2 separate regions of the Homo sapiens genome follow, and region 1 is linked to region 2. Evidence: fine-mapped expression QTL. A gene starts in region 2. The other region holds a variant in brackets. All regions are shown on one strand. Distances are from middle to middle. Region 1 holds the start of MIR4758 (microRNA 4758). Region 2 holds the start of LAMA5 (laminin subunit alpha 5).

Evidence for each region.
Region 1: its variant is fine-mapped to the expression of LAMA5 in gastroesophageal junction (GTEx, PIP 0.92).

Annotation. Positions count from the first base shown.
Region 1 is chr20:62,332,394-62,336,393 of GRCh38, reverse strand. It overlaps LAMA5 (laminin subunit alpha 5), which reads left to right. Exons shown (of 80, transcript NM_005560.6): 18 at 1-54; 19 at 1,125-1,177; 20 at 1,268-1,373; 21 at 1,773-1,872; 22 at 2,052-2,208; 23 at 2,355-2,493; 24 at 2,688-2,830; 25 at 2,913-3,019; 26 at 3,151-3,304; 27 at 3,677-3,837; 28 at 3,914-4,000. MIR4758 (microRNA 4758) reads left to right here and starts at 3,837; the gene lies at 3,837-3,907. The variant G/A (reference allele first, on the strand shown) is at 2,134.
Region 2 is chr20:62,365,622-62,370,114 of GRCh38, reverse strand. It overlaps LAMA5 (laminin subunit alpha 5), which reads left to right and starts at 2,803. Exons shown (of 80, transcript NM_005560.6): 1 at 2,803-3,166. The coding sequence starts at 2,870. RefSeq lists enhancers at 501-1,200, 3,299-3,998 and a silencer at 2,680-3,119.

The sequences.
Region 1 (4,000 bases), 33 kb after region 2:
GCTGCAAACCTGGGTTCTGGGGACTGAGCCCCAGCAACCCCGAGGGCTGTACCCGTGAGTGTGCCCTGGAGTATTGGGGTACAGGGGTTCCTTGGGGAACTGTGCCCACAAGTATATCCTGGAGGGAGTGTTGGGGTGCAGGGTTCCTGGAGGGGCTGGAGCCAGTGAGTGTGCCCTGGAGGGAGTGGTGGGATATGGGGTTCCTCGGGGATTGTACCCATGAGTGTGCCCTGAAGGGAATGTTGGGGTGCGGGGTTCCTCAGGGGGGCTGCGAGTGTGCCCTGAGGGAGTATTGGGGGTATGAGGGTTCCTTGGGGGGCTAGAGCCTGTGAGTGTGCCCTAAAGGGAGTATTGGGGTATAGGGGTTCCTCGGAGGGGCTGCACCTGTGAGTGTGCCCTGGAGGGAGTGTTGGGGTGTGGGGTTCCTCAGGGGATGGCACCCATGAGTGTGTCCTGGAGGGAGTGTTGGGGTGTGGGGTTCCTCGGGATTGCACCCATGAGTGTGTCCTGGAGGGAATGTTGGGGTGCAGGGGTTCCTGGGGGGGTACTGGAGTCCATGAGGGTGTCCTGGAGGGAATGTTGGGGTGCAGGGGGTTCCTGCGTGGGACTGGAGTCCATGAGTGTGCCCTGGAGAGAGTGTTGGGGTACGGGGTTTCCTCGGGGTGCTGGAGCCTGTGAGTGTGCTCTGGAGGGGGTGTTAGTGTGTGGGGGTTCCTCGGAGGGGCTGCACCCGTGAGTGTGCCCTGGAGGGAATGTTGGGGTGTGGAGTTCCTCAGGGGATTGTACCCATGAGGGTGTCCTGGAGGGAGTGTTGGGGTACAGGGGTTCCTGGGGGGGGGCTGGAGTCTGAGTGTGCTCTAGAGGGAGTATTGGGGTATGGGATTTCCTTGGGGGGCTGGAGCCTATAGTGTGCTCTGGAGGGAGTGTTGGGGTATAGGGGTTCCTTGGGGAACTGTACCTGCAAGTGTATCCTAGAGGGAGTGTCAGGGTGCAGGGGCTCCTGGGGGTGCTGGAGCCTGTGAGTGTGCCCTGGAGGGGGTGTTAGGGTGTGGGGGTTCCTCGGGGGGCTGGAGCCAGGCTCTCCTGCCCCACCAAGCATCTGAGTCCTGCCCTGCTCTCCCCAGGCTGCAGCTGCGACCTCAGGGGCACACTGGGTGGAGTTGCTGAGTGCCAGCCGGTGAGTCTGAGGACCAAGGTGTGGGGGATTTGGGGGCACACTGGTCAGGACCCTCCCCTGCCCCACTTCACCTCCTCCCTTGGCCCCCAGGGCACCGGCCAGTGCTTCTGCAAGCCCCACGTGTGCGGCCAGGCCTGCGCGTCCTGCAAGGATGGCTTCTTTGGACTGGATCAGGCTGACTATTTTGGCTGCCGCAGTGAGTGCCCACTCGCTCGTCCCAGACCACAGCCCTGCCTCCCCTCGGTTTATGCTGGGGAACCCAAGGCCCGGAGGGACAAGTGCAGCCTGGGCAGCATGAAGCCCGGGTGATGGATGGCTGCCCCTTGGTGCCAGCCTGTGCCAGGGTGTGGGAGAGGGGGTGCAGCTCCCACCCAGATGCGTGGCTTCCTCTCCCCTGTCCTACACCTGGGCAGACGGCACTAACAGATCCCAGCGCCCTCACCCTCGCCCTCGCCCTCGCCCTGAGCCCTGAGCCCTGAGCCCTGACTCTCCATCATCCAGAGAGCCCCAGGCAGGCTTCTCAGTCTGGCTGTGAGGGGCCCCTGAGGCTGGGTGGGGGCCAGGCAGCCTCTGACCTCCCACCTTCTCCCTGCAGGCTGCCGGTGTGACATTGGCGGTGCACTGGGCCAGAGCTGTGAACCGAGGACGGGCGTCTGCCGGTGCCGCCCCAACACCCAGGGCCCCACCTGCAGCGAGTGGGTACCCCTTCCCCACTGGGTGGTGGGGAGCGGGGCAGGCAGCTTGTCCTCCGGGCCTCTCCGTGTCCCTCACCATGGGCCCACGTGAGGCCTCACCCTCCCTGGAGACCCGGGGCCGCTGTGCAGGGCTAGGTAGGATGGCCAAGCTGCACCTGACCAGCCCCTGCTGTGGCCAGGCCTGCGAGGGACCACTACCTCCCGGACCTGCACCACCTGCGCCTGGAGCTGGAGGAGGCTGCCACACCTGAGGGTCACGCC[G/A]TGCGCTTTGGCTTCAACCCCCTCGAGTTCGAGAACTTCAGCTGGAGGGGCTACGCGCAGATGGCACCTGTCCAGGTGGGCGCTGTGCTCCCCCTCCCAGGCTCAGCCTAGAAGTGGAGCCAGGCGTGGCTGGCAGGGAGGGGTGGGCAGGCCCCTTGAAGGCCCAGGCCTCAGGCTGGCAGTGGTCAGGGAGAGTGACCCGACGCTCCATGCCCACCCAGCCCAGGATCGTGGCCAGGCTGAACCTGACCTCCCCTGACCTTTTCTGGCTCGTCTTCCGATACGTCAACCGGGGGGCCATGAGTGTGAGCGGGCGGGTCTCTGTGCGAGAGGAGGGCAGGTCGGCCACCTGCGCCAACTGTGAGTGGGGTCCCTGGGCCACAGCCCCTGCCCCACCAGCCCAGCCCACCCCACCCCACCCCACTCCCAAGCCCCGCCACCTTCCTCTGGCTCATGTGGGTGGTAGGACCAGCCTATCCCCAACCCTGTAGGGGGTGCAGCCTGGGGTGGCCCCAAGGGCTGGGCTCAGGAGTCTCACCCCTGCCCCCGCCCAGGCACAGCACAGAGTCAGCCCGTGGCCTTCCCACCCAGCACGGAGCCTGCCTTCATCACCGTGCCCCAGAGGGGCTTCGGAGAGCCCTTTGTGCTGAACCCTGGCACCTGGGCCCTGCGTGTGGAGGCCGAAGGGGTGCTCCTGGTGAGGCAGGGGCCAGAGTGAGGGCTGGGGGCCGGGTCAGGGGGTGGGGCCCACCACTCTCAGCACCACCTCCACCCTGCAGGACTACGTGGTTCTGCTGCCTAGCGCATACTACGAGGCGGCGCTCCTGCAGCTGCGGGTGACTGAGGCCTGCACATACCGTCCCTCTGCCCAGCAGTCTGGCGACAAGTGAGGGCCATGCGTGCGGTGGGACCGGGGTGGGGGCTTCCTGGACCCCCACTGTGCCTGGCTTCCCCCACTCAGGCTGTCTCTGGGGACCTGGGTGGACCTGGGGCTGACCACGGCCTGTGTCCCCCCAGCTGCCTCCTCTACACACACCTCCCCCTGGATGGCTTCCCCTCGGCCGCCGGGCTGGAGGCCCTGTGTCGCCAGGACAACAGCCTGCCCCGGCCCTGCCCCACGGAGCAGCTCAGCCCGTCGCACCCGCCACTGATCACCTGCACGGGCAGTGATGTGCGTGTCCTGGGACCCCACGGAGCAATGGGTGTTGCAGGACCTTGGCCTGGGGGCTGGGGGTCCTGTGGCGGTGGCAGGTTATAGGAGCAGGGCGCTGCCTCAGGCAATGGAGCCCAGCACCCAGGCAGGGCGCCCCTGCCTCCTGCCTCCTGCCTCCTGCATGTGTGACCTCAGTGCCTGTCTGTATGTAGGATTGGCTGTGGCCTCCACATACAGCTCAGCCCCCACCACTTGCCTGGAGATGTCCGGGCCAGGGTGGGACTCGGCTGAAGGGCAGGCCCTGGGGTCAGGGAGGCGCTGGAGTGGGAGGGGAGGGAGGTGGGAAGGGCGAGGGGTGGCGGGCCTCCCGTCACCCTGCCTTCCCTGCAGGTGGACGTCCAGCTTCAAGTGGCAGTGCCACAGCCAGGCCGCTATGCCCTAGTGGTGGAGTACGCCAATGAGGATGCCCGCCAGGAGGTGGGCGTGGCCGTGCACACCCCACAGCGGGCCCCCCAGCAGGGGCTGCTCTCCCTGCACCCCTGCCTGTACAGGTGAGTGGGAGCCGGTGGGGCTGGAGTAAGGGCACGCCCGGGGCTGCCCCACCTGCTGACCACCCTCCCCCCACAGCACCCTGTGCCGGGGCACTGCCCGGGATACCCAGGACCACCTGGCTGTCTTCCACCTGGACTCGGAGGCCAGCGTGAGGCTCACAGC
Region 2 (4,493 bases):
TGCAGGTGTGGCCGAGTAGGGTGGGGGCATTCTCAGGAATGCCACTGGAGTAGCACTGGGGGCTCAGGTGAGGTGGCTGCCCCCAGGGCTCCGCAGCAGACCTTGTCCCAGGGCTGGGGGAGGATCTGAGACCCCTTCCCCAGGGCCAGGAGTGCCCCTACTTCTCTCGGGCTGCCACTGACCCCTGCCCCCGACCCACCTCCTCTGGGGCTCCATCACCCTGGAGCTGGGTGGGCAGGGGCTCTGGATCTTGGATTGTCCCTGGAGGGCAGCCAGAGCCTGGTGGGACAGAGGCTCCTCCACGGCCCTCCCCTGGCGAGCCACCTCCTTTTACCCTCCCCTCCACTCCCAGACTGGGCAGCTCCCTCCTGTGGATTCAGGACAGGACGTGTTTGGGGGTGGGGTGCCGTCTGACCTGTTGCAGGGAGGAGGACTACGTCACGGGCGGGTGCCCGAAAGATGCCCAGTAAATAGGAGTAAGAAATGAATGATGGACAAACTTCCTCTTGCTTTACTAACTTGTGTGCTCTTGATTGACCCTGGCCTTTTTGGCCTCAGTTTCCCCATTTGTAAATAGAAGAGGTGGCTGGGCTGCGCAGGACTCAGAAAGACAAGGAGACAGGCTCGCTGGTCCATTTGGTGATGACTCACTGGAACCATGACAAAGACAGCAGGGGTGGGGGTGTGCAGAGATGAGCTGCCCCTCTCCCTGCTCACCTCCCCAACCCCCTGTGTGTAGCCCGGCTGGGACAGCCCCCCCGCCCTCCATACGCTCAGCTCCTGCCCCAGCTGCCTCCTTCCCAGTCCGTGCACCAGCAGACACAGGGTGGGGGCAGAGTGTGGGCTCTTTACCCAGCCCCTGGGCCACATTCTCTTGTCCACTGCGCTGCCCGCCTGCCTGCCAGTTGCTCCCGGGGCAGCTGTCTGCCGGGAAGCAGTGAGCCCGGTGATTAACCCTGCTGGTGCTGGCAGCTCCGGCTGACACAGCGCATTCTCAGGGCCGGCCCCCGCTCCCCTCCTGGCCAGTGCCGGGGGACAGCGGAGGCCTGGCAGCTTGGCCTGATCTGGCCGCTAGGAGGCTTAAAGTGCTCTCCCCACCCCCACCTCTCCCCCTGCCCCGCCACTCGCAATCCCACCCCTCCAACCACCCGACCCTCCAGGGATCCCAAGAAGCCCTCAGGGTCTCAGGAGTCTCCACCTCCAGTCCCCCAGGCTGTCAGAGCCCCAAGCTGTCAAGGGGGAGCCCAGAGCCAGAGCACACTGCCTGGGGCCAAGCCCCCACCTGGGGACCCGCTACTGCCCAGAGGCCACTCTCTGCCTCACACGGGATCTAAAGCAGCTCAGAGCCGGACTCTGCGCCTGGACTGCAGATTCCTTGATGTCTCCGCCCCCTCTCCAGCCAGCCCCTCCCCCACTTGGAGCTTCTCCTGCCAAGGGGAGCCGCCTCCTCTCCCCCCTCCCCCAGGTGGGAGAACTAATAGTGAAGTTATGGAAGAATTGCCGGGCCGGAAAGTAGGAGGAGGGAGAGAGGGTCCCATCGCCCTCCCGACTCCGTAGAGAAAGGGCCATACACCCTCTTGGGATTTGAGATTTGCAGGAGGCCAGGGCGCCAGGAAGGTGTGCAAGGAGGTGCACCCTCCAGGGACAGCTGCTAGCTCAGAACCCCCACCAGAACCGGCTGGCCAGTGCCCCACAAACCCACCCAGCCCCCCGGGACTGTCCAGGGAACCCAGCGAGAGATGAGCCCCACAGCCCATCTGGGACCATGGCCCGCCCAGCTGGCCTGGCTCAGGGATGGGGGTTTGCTGCCAGCTCGGCAGCTGCAGCCCCACCCCGCCGCCACCCCCTCGGGGCTTCCCTGGAGGCAGATTTGGCCCCGGAGCCCAAGGGAAGTAGGAGACCCAGGGCCGCAGCCACCCAAAGGCAGACGAAGACCTGATCTCGGCCTCTAGGTCCTGTGCTGTTTGCCAGGCGTCCTCGAGCCGCCGATCGTGGCAGGAACGCGTGCGCGGCTGTGCAGCGGGTTGGAGGCCAGGCCGAGAGAGCTGGTGGAGTCCACCGGGCCCCGGAGCACAGGTGCTTCCAGGCACCCAGCAGGTGCTCAGCAGCTGTGACCAGAGCCCCCGACCTCCTTAAGAGCCAATTTGGCGGCTGTGGGGCCATGAGCACCGCCCCCGTCCTCTAAAGGGGGCTGCAGCTGCAGGCCAGTCCCTCCTGCCCCTATTTCCCTATCTGAGAGTATTTTTAAGCCCTGCTGGGGCAGGCGGGAGCCAGGCCGAGTTGAACCTGACCTGGCTGCCCCAGGAAGCAGGGGGTTCCCACCTAGGCTGCCCCGTTCCTCTGCAGATGGTCATTCGCGGGTGCAGAGGGCACCTTCCCGCAGCCAGCAGGACGGACGCTGTTGGGGGAGGAGCGGGGGCAGCCGAGTGGTGCACCCAAGTTAGGGGAACAAAGAGTGGGCCCCTGGGCTGGGAGGAGCTGGTGGGCGCTCTGGGGGCCAGGGCGTCGTGGGGAGCGCTAGGGTCCCACCCGGGACCCGGAGCTACGACCTGGGCTGGGGGCCCGGCGGCGCCGTCGTCCCACGGCCTGGCCCGAGGCCAGCAGGTGCCCCTTCCGGGAGGCGGCCGGGCCGGGGTCCGAAGGGTTAAGGCCGCCCGGCCGCCCCTCCCCCTCCTCTCTCCTTCCCCCCCCCACCCCGCCTCCCCGGACCTCTCCCCGGGGCTCGGGGCTCGGGCGCTCGGGCGGGCCGGGGCGGGGCCTGACGTCCGCGGGCGGAGCGAGCCCTGCCGGCCGCCTGGCTTCAGACCCGCCGGGCTCCCGCCGCGCGCGCTGTCCCTGGAGCTCGGGGACGCGGCCCGGAGCCGGGAAGATGGCGAAGCGGCTCTGCGCGGGGAGCGCACTGTGTGTTCGCGGCCCCCGGGGCCCCGCGCCGCTGCTGCTGGTCGGGCTGGCGCTGCTGGGCGCGGCGCGGGCGCGGGAGGAGGCGGGCGGCGGCTTCAGCCTGCACCCGCCCTACTTCAACCTGGCCGAGGGCGCCCGCATCGCCGCCTCCGCGACCTGCGGAGAGGAGGCCCCGGCGCGCGGCTCCCCGCGCCCCACCGAGGACCTTTACTGCAAGCTGGTAGGGGGCCCCGTGGCCGGCGGCGACCCCAACCAGACCATCCGGGTGAGCGCAGGGGCGGGCCGTGGGGCTTCCTCCCGGGGCACTCGGACCCGGAACACCGGCCCGACCCCAGGGGGAGCGCCGTGGCCCGGGGCGAGTCCAGGTGCGGACTCTCTGGTTCCGCATTTTGGGGGCCCAAGAAGGCACCCCGACCCGGCCGCTCCGTCTCGGCCGGGAAACTTCGCGTCCCTCCGGGAAGGCGGAATTAAAGTCCCCGGCATGGACCCGGGGGCGGCTGGGCGCCGGTCCAGTTCGACTGCGGTGACCGGGGCGGGAGGGGGGCCGGGCCCAGTCCCTGGCGGCCCCAAGTCCGGGATCCCGGGGAGGGCGGGACTTGGCCTCCGCCGCCTGCTGCCGGTGGGGAGGGGGCGCAGCTCCGCCCTACCCGGGACAGGCTGGAACCTGTTGGCCTCTGGATGGGGTGGGAGGGGCCAGCCACCTGAGGCTCCCACTAGCCCCTCTCGGAGGAGTCTAGGGACTCGAGGAGACCTCCAAAGTAGGGGAGGGCCAGCTGCGAAGTTTTGACTGGGGCTGGGAACACGTGGCTCCCAGGAGGGGCAGCATCTCTGCCCAGCAGGTGGTAGGGTCCGGGGGCTTCAGTCTCCCTGGGAGATGTGGGTTCAGGCCCTGAAGACCCCCTGGGGTGCATGTCCCCTCCCCAACAAGCCTTAAACCTGTAGGCGGGTTCTGTTGGTGGACTCCATGCATGGACACCTCACCTGAAAACCAAGGCTCTTGGGGCCCTGTAGACTTAGGTTGGGCCTGGGGTCAGCCTTGGGTGAGGAGCAGCAAAGTCAGCTCCAACGGCTCCCAACCGGCCGCTCTAGGCCCATTCCCCACCTCAGCCCCACCTTAGGGAGAGTCTAGGGGCCCTGAGGGCCTGTGTAACCTGAGCTGTCTCCTCCCTGGTACCTCTGCCTTCCCGGAAGGAGAGGCTGGGGCAGGGGCGAGTAGCTGGAGATTTGCTGGGTGGGGGCAGAGGGCCCTGGAGCAAGACGTTATGGGGATGAATGGAGGAGCCTGGGCTGGGCCCGCCCCCTCTGCCTGCCCCACCCCCTTGGCCCTGGTGGAGGGGGAAGGAGCCTCCCCAGGCTTCTGGGCTCACCGTTCTCTCCTTAAGCCCAGCACAGTCCTCTGAGATAGGAGGTCTCAAGCCCACACTTCAGATGGGGGATCTGAGCCCTGGAAAGCTGCTGACACCTGCTTGGAGCCCCCCAGCCAGAACAGGGTCCAGCGGGGGTTAGCTGTGGGAACCTGGGTGCCTCCTGGCTGCCCCCTTATCTGGTCAACTCAGAGGGGCCGGGTCTCAGGACGGAGGGCCTGTGACTGT